Homo sapiens: one gene and its partners. The protein of the gene in region 3 purifies or fractionates together with the protein of the main gene of each other region. This does not show direct contact. Each region holds a gene or a part of one and is shown on either strand. Other genes may lie near its edges. The genes, in order: ACTR2, ACTR3B and CHURC1.

What was found.
Region 1: the proteins of CHURC1 (region 3) and ACTR2 purify together in Homo sapiens (affinity purification with mass spectrometry; 4 studies listed by BioGRID and IntAct, with this or other methods). This does not show direct contact.
Region 2: the proteins of CHURC1 (region 3) and ACTR3B purify together in Homo sapiens (affinity purification with mass spectrometry; 3 studies listed by BioGRID and IntAct, with this or other methods). This does not show direct contact.

The regions. Positions count from the first base shown.
Region 1 is NC_000002.12:65,251,794-65,255,545, forward strand, and holds part of ACTR2 (actin-related protein 2), read left to right. Parts: intron 1-1,934; coding exon 1,935-2,071; intron 2,072-3,751; coding exon 3,752-3,752. UniProt on the Homo sapiens protein: ATP-binding component of the Arp2/3 complex, a multiprotein complex that mediates actin polymerization upon stimulation by nucleation-promoting factor (NPF).
Region 2 is NC_000007.14:152,818,634-152,822,385, reverse strand, and holds part of ACTR3B (actin-related protein 3B), read right to left. Parts: intron 2,088-3,752; coding exon 1,944-2,087; intron 1-1,943. UniProt on the Homo sapiens protein: Plays a role in the organization of the actin cytoskeleton.
Region 3 is NC_000014.9:64,924,349-64,928,100, forward strand, and holds part of CHURC1 (protein Churchill), read left to right. Parts: intron 1-1,658; coding exon of another isoform or gene 1,659-1,661; coding exon 1,662-1,732; intron 1,733-3,752. Other genes in the region: CHURC1-FNTB protein, read left to right, coding at 1,662-1,732. UniProt on the Homo sapiens protein: Transcriptional activator that mediates FGF signaling during neural development. Plays a role in the regulation of cell movement.

The DNA of each region.
Region 1 (3,752 bases), on a different chromosome or scaffold from region 3:
AACATTTGGGAGTGCATTTCTAACTTTTGAGGTGGGTTTAATGGAGGGGACTACTTATATATTCTCTTGATATTGCCATTAGCAACTGCCTCCCTCTTTATTGGAAATAAAATATTGGCCACGTTGGGAGAGCTCTTTTTTTTTTTTATGGTCTTATAAATTCAACAGGAACTTACTGAGAATGTCTGGGCCTGTCAGATATGTGCCAAGGAGTCTTTTAGGCACTTCAGGGGATAATCCAGTGGGAAAAGAGTGTGGCACTGGAAATGGGTCAAGTGTGTTTGGAGAAAGGCCAGTATGTGTGTGACCTGATGGAAGTGGTAGAAAATAAGGTGAGGTGGGTAGGGAGGGCTCTTTGGGAAATAAAATGTAAATTCTTGCATTAGTCAGTGTTCCTGGGAGTATTTTTGAATTGATGATGGTGTGAATTCCTCCTTTTTTTTTTCTTTTTTGCAATGGAAATCCTCTTCTTTTTAAAAGAGTACAACATTCAAGGGCTGTATATGAGTTTTATGAGGCTTATTGCATCAAGGAATTATATCCACTTAAAAAGGAGGTAGTTTTAGGCCGGGTGTGGTGGCTCACGCCTGTAATCCCAGCACTTTGGGAGGCCGAGGTGGGTGGATCACGAGGTCAGGAGATCGAGACCATCCTGACTAACACTGTGAAACCCCGTCTCTACTAAAAAAAAAATACAAAAAATTAGCTGGGCATGGTGGCATGTGCCTGTAATCCCAGCTACTTGGGAGGCTGAGGCGGGAGAATCGCTTGAACCCAGGAGGCAGAGGTTGCAGTGAGCTGAGATTGTGCCATTGCACTCCAGCCTGGGCGACAGAGTGAGACTCTGTCTCAAAAAAAATATGTAAATAAAAATAAATAAAAAAAGTTTTTTTGACCAGGTATGGTGGCTCATGGCTGTAATCCCAGCACTTTGAGAAGCCAAGGTGGTCAAATTGCTGTATCTCCAGAGTTTGAGACCAGCCTAGGCAACATAGTGAGATCCCTATCTCTATAAAAAGTAAAATTAGCTGGGTGTGGTTGCACATGCCTATAATCCCAGCCACTTGAGAGGCTGAGGTGAGATGATCACTTGAGCCCAGGAGGTTGAGGAAACAGGGGAAACAAAGCAGCTTCTTTGCTGTTCTTTTATTATGAGGTTTAACTGACATTGCCTTTTATTATAAGTTCCAGTGAATAATCAAAGTGATGCTTTGGCTAGCCATGTTTAATTTTTCTTAGATTTCTAGCTGTCTAGTATCAATAGGCATTTTTCCAGAACACACAGTATATGTTATTTGTAGTATATTCAAAACTATCTAAGTTGAAAAAAATAAAGAATTGTACAGAGCTTTAAGAACGTGTTCTGCTGGGTGTGGTGGCTCACGCCTGTAACCCCAGCAGTTTGAGAGGCCAAGGCAGACAGATCACTTGAGGCCAGGAGTTCGAGACCAGCTTGGGCAACATGGCGAAACTCTGTCTCTACAAAAAAATTACAAAAATTAGCCAGGCATGGTGGTGCATGCCTGTAGTCCCAGCTGCTCAGGAGGCTAAGGTGGGAGGTATGACTTGAACCCAGGAAATGAAGATTGCAGTGAGCCTAGATTGAGCCACTGTACTCCTCCAGCCTGGGTGACAGAGCCAGACCCTGTCTCAAAAAAAAAAAGGAAAAAAAAGTCCTGTTTTTCAGTCCTCAGTCTCAGGGTCTGTTTCTTCTCATCTCCTTGGACAGCACATAATAGTAGACTAAAAGTCTTAAAAGAGAACACTCGCTTTAATACTTATGCATTAGAAACAAACTGCAAAATAACTAAATAATAAATTCTGGCTTCTAGTTGGTTACGTTTCTGTTTTGGCTTCCCTACTGTATTTGGAACTCGCTGGCTTTGGTTTTCCTGATTTGACTTTTTATTTAAATCCCCCTGGCTTTTATGCAGGTTTATTGACTGGTGTAGTGGTAGACTCTGGAGATGGTGTGACTCACATTTGCCCAGTATATGAAGGCTTTTCTCTCCCTCATCTTACCAGGAGACTGGATATTGCTGGGAGGGATATAACTAGATATCTTATCAAGGTAAGTGAAAGGAAAATATCATGGAAATTAAATTTTGTAATTTGTTTACCACCTTAACACAGAATTGAATCTATCGTTTTAGGATTCCAGCAAATCTGTACCACTAGAGAAATTATCCAATTACCTCCCTTATTTATATAAAAATTCATATAAGATTTATACACATGAAGAAAAAAGAAGATACATTAAAAACAAGGAAAAAAGTGTACACACATGATCTCTGTATACTAATGAGAGTACATTATATCATTACATAATTATATTTGTTATTCCTGAGGAGTGAGTAGACAGATATTTCAAGGATAGAAGAGACCCCTAATTTGAAACTTTCTTGGACAGCTCAGGCAGCCTTTTCTGCCATAAAACCTTTCTTTGAGCAGGTATGTTTTAAGCCATGATCTTGGTTGGGTTGTCTGCTCTTGTCCTTTCCTACAAAATACAGTGATAGCAAATTAATGATATTTGAGGAAAACAGCCCAAATACGCCAGACTTTAATATTTAGTAGTTTTCATGGAATAGATGCAGTTTTTAATATTTACTATTTTAGTTTATTTCTGAATATAACTAGTTATAATTTTCTTTAAAACATTACTGGAGAAAGTACATAAGGTGTCTACTTGCTAACATATATCATTTTTAATATTAAAATAAAATTTAGAAAATTGTTTATACCACAATTCTATAATCAGTCTATCCTCTCCAGGACAGTGGTTCTCACCAGGGGACAGTGCTGTCCTCTGGGGGATATTAGCAATTTCTGGACACATTTTTGGTTGTCTGAGCTGGGCAGGAATGCTACTGAACATTCTATAATGAATAGGGCTGGCTGCACAACAAACAATGTATAGTCTGTCAGTGGTGCTGCTATTAAGAAACCCTGTCTCTGCATTAAATTGGGTTGCACTGTCTTTACCTTGACATTGGGTTCCTTCAGTCTCATTTAAAGTAATCCTCCTCATGAGGGGAGATTAAATTAATGAGAATTATAATACTCTCATTTTAGGCCAAAATTCAAAGCGTAACTAACAGAATTTCTGGGGTTGTCTTTAGAACACAGACTCAAATATTAGAGGATTTTTTTTTTATTTGTAAAGTCTAGTAATTTTTTTTCTCTCAGTGGGTTTTTAAAAAAATAGTAGTATTTTCTAGCATTTAAGAAATGTAACAATGGAGATTATACCTTTGAGTATCCCAATAATTCCCTTATCATTCGTTAAACAAATGCTATTGTCCTTCTAATATGTGCCAGACACAGTACTAGAAGCTAAAGATAAAACTTTTAAAGACTTGGGGGCATTTCATAAATATGGCATTAATTGTGTGAGCAAACTGCAGGCTACAGGAGTCCAGTACTAAAATAATATTTATTCATTAATATACTTTTGATTGTTTATCAAAACTATCAAAACATTAGTACTCATGCAGTGCTTTTCAAAAACTGACTTTTCTAGTCATTTTACTGACTTACTTATGAATTGTTAATTCTTTTACCCTCTCTGAAACTGAAATATAAATCCTTTTATGGCGGATAAAATCCTGCTTCTGAAATAGTAGGAGCTGAGGATCCACTGCCCATTCTGTTTGTTATTGATGTGACATATTTAATGAGCATTACTAGCTTTTGCAGAGTAGAACTCATTCAGATGTATTATGAACTTATTGCTATTGTTTTGTACCAGC
Region 2 (3,752 bases), on a different chromosome or scaffold from region 3:
AGCTGGCCTCCGCATAGCAGCAGGTGACCCCCAGATACTTGCTGCCTACGGGAAGCACGAGGTGGGCCGCCCAGCTGGCGCTGAGCACACCGTGGAAGGAATGGCTCTCTCAAGGACCTCCAAAGACGCTCTCGTGGTATTAAGTTTAAAGTTTCTTAGCATCCCTGAAACATATTCTAATGCCATCTTCTGGGTATCTTGGATATACTCTAGCGGAATTTTAAGAAGACTGACAGGCAAGAAGTGCTACACAACCCTGTGTTCTTTGATGACACAGAGAAACAGGGTCAGCTGATTACAACCTCAAATCTACCAAGACTGGAGACAAAGGCATTCAGTTCTCCTCACAGGCCTGGTCAACATCCTACAGCATCTCAGCTTACTTAACTCAAATGCTTGCTAGGAAATGTTTCCATTGAGTTGGGTGCAGAGTAACAGGCTTAACCTTAAGGTTCAGGATTCATGCTGCAAGGGTGGTGTGCTCACGTTACACACTCCCTCAGGCCTGTTCACAACCACAGAAGGCCATGGCAGTAAGGGGAAGCGGGGGGAGCTCTAAACCACGCCTTTCAGGATCTGTTCCTTCAAAGAGAGAAGTGAGGTGAGAACTAACAGGGCTACCCCACACAGCAGGGCCAGGGCAGCTGACTCGGAGGCTATGAACAGTCTCTTTTACTCCCAGCCTTCACAGGGGGGAGACACACAGTCACATCGAGCACATCAGCCCAGATTTCAGGGTCCAAATTGGAACCCCAACAGCCCGTGTGGAGAGTTGAAGGCCCAGCATGAGGGTCAGGAAAGCCCCTCCGTGGCAGTGTTGCTCAGCAATCCTGGCGGAAATAGGGAGGACTCAGACTCACTGGAGTGGACCCTGGGCGTCAATAACAAAAGGCTCAATTCTTTTTTTTTTTTTCTTTTTTGAAATAGAGACGAGATCTCGCTATATCACCTGGGCTAGTTTCGAACCCTGGCCTCAAGCAATGCTCCAGCCTCAGCCTCCCAAAGCCCTAGGATTATAGATGTGAGCCACTATGAAGGGGCTCAATTCTGACTTACATTTCTAACAGATTTGGAGTGGCAAGGGAGCTTGGATCAAATAGTCAAATATTCTTCCATGGAGGAAAGGCAAAGAAAGGAGAAGGTGACCCCTTAGGAAATATTTTAGTCTAAAAAAGAATATCTAATGATACCTCAGGAAACCTTCCCCTGAGATGGAAGGGACCACGTCTTCCCCACATCACCATTTCAGCGCTGAGAGCCCCCTTCCCAGGAATCTCTGGTCCCAGGTAAAGCAGGGCAGGTCATACCCAACTGCAGAGCCTGCCTCATGCCAGTGCCTCCTGACCTAAAAACACCTCGGGAATCATCTCTGGTGCTTCCTTTCCTTCAGCCAGCCTCAGTTACGAGGTGCTGAGAAGGGAGGAAGGCAGTGAGGAGAAGTGTGGGTGTTGGGCTCACCCCCATCAAGCTCTGCTACACTCAGAAACTGTGCCATAAAGGAAGAAGATGCTTATGGCCACACGTCACAGCCACACCTGTGTGTGAATTTTGTGCAATAGCTCTGGATCCTAGGGTGGCAGTGTTCTGCTGCTGTGGTCGCCTCCTGATTCTACAGCGAAGCATGGAGGCAGTATGGAAGGAGCCCTCTGGTAGATGAGGCTCCAGCAGTGAGGCTCCAGCTGAACAATGCTGCCTCTGCACGCTGGTACGCTGCACCAGCTACCAAGCTGTTCTCAGTGACAGCTGAAACCTCAAAGCATCTAGTTTGGAAGAGGTTAAGCTTTACATCTTCAGCCCACTTAAGGGGTAAAACAAATCAAGCCCCACATTCATGGGAAGGGGAGAGGAAGGAAAGGAGGAGCAGGGATGATGGCACCAAGGGGAAGTGTCCAGAACACCATCTCTCTCACCCCCAAACCGGCCGGTTTCCCATCTGTTTTTACCTTAATGGCTTTTGCGGTCTCCAGTGACTGCTCAGGAGGGATTCCCACCTCCCTCTCCCTTAGCAGCTGTTGAATGAAATACGTAATATCTCTACCTGCAATCGGGATGTGTTTGATGCAGCTTCCAATTACATAACCTTCTGCCTAGGGAAGAAGAGGAGGCAGAACAGCTGTGTTAGTGATTTCGTGGTGGAGAGCAGCCTGGACTCACAAGGTTTCCTGCCTCAGCCTCCCTGTCTGCCCCTCATGGCACTGACAAGCATTTACATAATCCCCACCCTCTGCAAGCTCAGTACAGAAGGTCTTTCAAAATGACTGCATATGCAATTCCATTAATATTCAAAATTCCAGATTATTCCAATAACCTGACACTCTCTAAAAGCAACCAAAATGATTTCATTAGGAATATGAAAAGAAAAACCACATAAGATAGTTCATTTCCAAAAAGAAATGCTGTCTGTAAGAACACTAAACCCAATAGGTTCTTTCCCTGATAAAAAGGAAAAAGTTTTATTTATAAATTGTTAAGCCAACTATAAATCTACTTACGTTTAAAAGTCAGCAATTTGGTTAATACACAGGGCTTAGATTCTAACAACCTGGACTCAAATCCCAGCTCCACATTTGCAAGTTTCACATGCTTCAGCCTCAGCGCGTTTGTCCATCGTATGAGGCAAACAATACCCTGCTGGGGCCAATGATACAGTTCAGATGAAACTGCGTGTGTCGAGCACACAGCACTGGTTTTGGGGGCTGGGAGCCTCTCATTCCACTGCCTCCCTAAGCCAGTGAAGGCATGTCTGTGAGGGGCCAGGAAAGGAGGGTGACCACGCCCTGGGCCGATCAATGGCAGGGCCAGTGTCAAGTGTCCACATGCCCACAGCAATGATGGGCCCAAAGCTCCCTCATCAGCCTTCCTGTGGGCACAGACCTGCCACAGGAGCCACAGGCTTGGACACACATCCAGCTTGTTCTCCAGGGGATGAGCAGGATGCTGACCGTCAGAGTGGACAACGCCCACCGCTGGATCATCCGGTAAAGACACTCAGGTTTCACGTTACAGCACATCACAGCTTCTGTGCCACAGTCCCCAAGTGAGACAGAAGGGAACAGAAGTGAAACGCTGACTTCATTTTACAGATGTATTCATTCTAATAGCTGCACCTAGTCACCAGTAAAGTTGCAAGAACAACTTACTGAATTCCTCCTATGGTTTCTTTCTGATATACGTAACTTCTAGAAGCAAAAAAAGTAGCCTTTCTGCAGAGTCCAAGTATTTGTAAGGTATTTTAAGATGGAGATAAAAGTATAAATTACTAAAACTCAACTTAAACCCATAAAAATAATATTAGCTTTCTAATACATAAACTATTCACAATTATTATATTCTATGCATTACACGTAACATTTTCTAAAATACTGTTAAATAAATATCAGCTCATGACAGTGGTAAAAATATTAAAACAAGATACATGTCCAACAACAGAAAAATAAATTATGTACTTCTTAAATGTATTTTCACAGAATATTTAACCACAAGAGAAAAAAACTAGGGTTAAATTAATACGCAAAATATAACCTTAGGATTGTATTATATGTAGAATCCCAAACCAGACATGAGACATTCCAATTGTGTTTAAAGTGTGTGTGTGTGCACGCATGCGTGAGCACACGTGTCTTAGAAAAAGAGCTTAGGCCGGGCATAGTGGCTCACGCCTGTAATCCCAGCACCTTGGGAGGCCAAGACAGGCGGATCACCTGAGGTCGGCAGTTTGAGACCAGCCTGACCAATATGGAGAAACCCCATCT
Region 3 (3,752 bases):
AACTGAATTTTTTTTGTTTATCAAATTATTTTTCACGGACATATTTTTAAAAGCTTTATGCTGCCTTAACAAGATATACTTTTTATTATTGTTATTATTGTGACCTTAGGGTCATCCATGTGAGTTTTCACTTTTCTGCTACAGTATAATACCATGATATCCTCCAACAGCTATTAAAGTGTTTAGGGCTGCTTGTCCCTATACTAAATGACTTCAGGAATGCAGTGTTTTTTTCAGTCTTGTTTCTGCTCAGAATGTCTAGCTTTTTTTTTCTTCTCCAATCTCACTGTCAGTCTGTTGTTCCTTACTTTTGCTGCTAAATAATAAGCTGCCTTCCTATCCTTCTTCTCGTCCTCAATACTGGGAAACCAAATAAACTATGTATAAAAAAATCAATTCTGAGGTTAGCACTAAGGATTTCTGTAAGTTAAGTATATGTATACTTCAGTGCCCAATATTGTGAGAAGTATTTAACTGTTCACATTCCCTTTTTGCTTGTCTCCTGGTTCTTGGGTACCTTCTAAACACATGAGGAATAAATGTACAGGTAATGGTATTTTGTCAGAGGAGTTTGAAAGACAGCAGGCCTTTAGAATGGAGTCAGATAATAATAAATGTTCTAAGCTAGAAGAATCTTTTTCTTTCTTTTTAGCATATGTTTTCTTTAAGCTGTATTTCATTCCAGGCAGTAGGGCATAGTGGTTTAAGAGCAAGGGCCCTGGAGCTAGGCTGTTTGGGTTTGAATTCTGGTTCCAATACATCCTGGCTCAGTCGTCTTGCTAGTTACTTAACTGAAGTATGCCATTGTTTCCTTATCTCTAAAAAGGTGGTGATGATACTATCTACCTCATTGGGTTTTTTAGAAGATTAAATATTTAAAATAGTAAGCACTCAATAAATCATCGTTTTTACTAGATTATTTTGTTACCATTAAATTCACTTTAATGCCCAGCTTTGGTTTTTATTTATGATTGGATATAGTAGCACAGTTTATATTATTCATGATAATGAAAGCTTTTACATAGTTAAATAGGTCCAGCTGGGATGGGTGCGGTGGCTCACGCCTATAATCCTAGGACTTTAGGAGGCCCAGGAGGGTGGATCACTTGAGCCCAGGGGTTCAAGACCAGCCTGCTCAACATAGTGAGACCTCACCTCTACAAAAATTCAAAAAAATTAGCTGAGTGTGTTGGCACATGTCTTGAGCCTCTCCTGGGCTCAAGTTATCCTCCCAGCTACTCAGGAGGCTGATTTGGGAGGATAACTTGAGACTGGGAGGTTGAAGCTGCAGTGAGGCATGTTTGTGTCACTGCACTCCAGCCTGGGCAACAGAGTAAGACCCGGCCTCAAAAAAAAAAAAAAAAAAAAAGAAATTGATCTAGCTAGTTTAAAAATACACTTAAATATGTTTTAACTGCTTCTCTTAAAGAACTTTTGGTGGCAATTAATAAAAGCTCAGACTCAGAATTATGTAACGTTGTTATGTGGCAGATTCTGAATCTTTTAAAAATCAAGGTAGATACTATAATGGGTTTCCTCCTATGTTAAATATGACAGACTTAAGATTCTCTTTAAATAATATGCTGAGAATAGAAATTTTAATAGAAGTTTTAAGAAACTCTCTAAGACTTAATTACGTAAGTCTCTCTTTGTTTTAGCAGATTTGTGTAAGAATTGTCATCATGTAATAGCCAGACATGAGTATACATTCAGTATCATGGATGAATTTCAGGTAAATATAAATATGGGTATAAATATAAATATGGGGAGGTTAGGGGAATAATAAAAGTGCTCTTGAGAATCTAAATACGGTTTTCATAAGTGAAGTGCAAAGCGTTAGCATATATTAAAGGAGACTATGCCTTTTTTTTTTTTTTTTTTTGAGATGGTGTCTTGCTATGTTGCCCAGGCTGGTATTGAACTCCTGGGCTCAAGCAGTCCTCCCACCTCGGCCTCCAAAGTGTTGGAATTACAGGCATGAGCCACTGTGCCCAGCCCCATGCCTTTCTTATATCTGTGCAAGTTGAGAGACAGACTTTAGATGTGGGTGGATTTGTGTAAACCTGTCTTCACGAGAATCACAAATCAAAATGTGTAGTTTACAAATGATATCTCAGCCCTGTCATTTTTGTTTATAAAGAATAGTAGCACATTCTAGCTTCTTATGAGATTACCATTGTGCTGCTTTTTTTCTGCCCAGTTACGTGATTGCACAGTTGTGGGCTTTTAAGTGGTGTCCTGTCAACTGCCACCATACTTGCCCAGCATGGAAACTGTGATAAGGAGGTTTTCTTTGTTTTCCCAAGTTGACATGTAGAGTTGAACAACTCTGCAGTCTCATTTGTGGTAAGACATTATAGTATTGTTAAGTAAAATTACAAGCTGTGTGTACCATGGTTGGAGGAGAAACACAGAACCACTGTGAAGCTGGAGATTAAGAGATTTATCATAAGGATTAATCCTTACACAATTGTGAGAGTATGTGAAGAATTCTCTGGAAGGTTGATATAGGCCTGTAGTTGCTGAAGATACACAGGTCTGACGGTCAGAAAGAAAAGCTGGGCAGTCGGGGAGAGCCAGGGACAAACTGAAACCTATCTCTGTCCCTCACTGCCTGTTTTCAAGCCTTCAGGTTGAGTTACTTATTTTGTGTGAACTACATATTTGTCCATAGGATATAAATATCAGGCTAGAGCTTTTAACAGCCGAGAGAATTTTTTCAATTCCCTTCACATTTGGATAGTACTTAATTAGGAAAATAATAATAATCTTCCATAGCAGAATCATAAGATAGTAAAACCCCTCTTATTCCTTATTTTAGCATGGAAGAAAGTGCTTAGTCACCTGTCAGAGTCTGGTCTGATATGTTGTGGTTAATCTAAAATAACATCTTGACTATATTTTATATTTCTTCAGCATCCAAAAATTATGCCTCAAGAAATATTTATATGATATGCGTAACTTAGGGCAAAATTGACATCTTAGTGAATGAGTAGTGGCCGCATAGGGAGATGAGCATCTCCTGGGCTTAAAGAAACAGTCCTATTCTTTTATGGGAGGAAAGGAGTGCTTATAGCTATTTTCAAGACACTCCTGAATTTCACGTGAGTTATGTACAGCTCCTGAACGGATATTGAGGTTGCCTGTTTATGTCCTAACCAAGCCATTGTAAATTAGCTAGACCAAAGTCTAGCTGATTTTTCCTTTTTGACTGAATGCAGCCGTTTTCAAAGCTGCCCTGGAAATTACTCTGGGACAGGAAGAAGGTAAAGGAAGGTGGCTTGTAGTCACGATGCAAGAAACTATGAAATGGTGGTGAAAATGATTCTTAAACTAGACTCTCTACTCCCAGTCTACTTCTCCCCCCACCCCCCCCCCCGCCGTCAATTCATACTCCATACTCTACCATCATATTAATTTTCTTAAAATAATGTTTTCAAAGCTGGGCACAGTGGTGTGTGCCTATAGTTCGAGCTACTCAGGAGACTGAGGCAGGAGAATCTCTTGAGTCCAAGTGTTTGAGTACAGTCTGGGCAACATAGTGAGACCCTGTCTCTACTAAAAAGTAAAAATAAATACTTTTGGGTGACCTCATTGGCCTTCCCATAGTGCACCTTTAGCTACAGTACAATATCCAAGCTCCTCATTTCAAGGTTCTCACTGGACTGGCCCAGCTTCCCTTCTTTTATTTCCTGCTACTCTTTCATATGTACACCATACTTAGCATTGTCCCAACTTTACTCTTCCTTCTC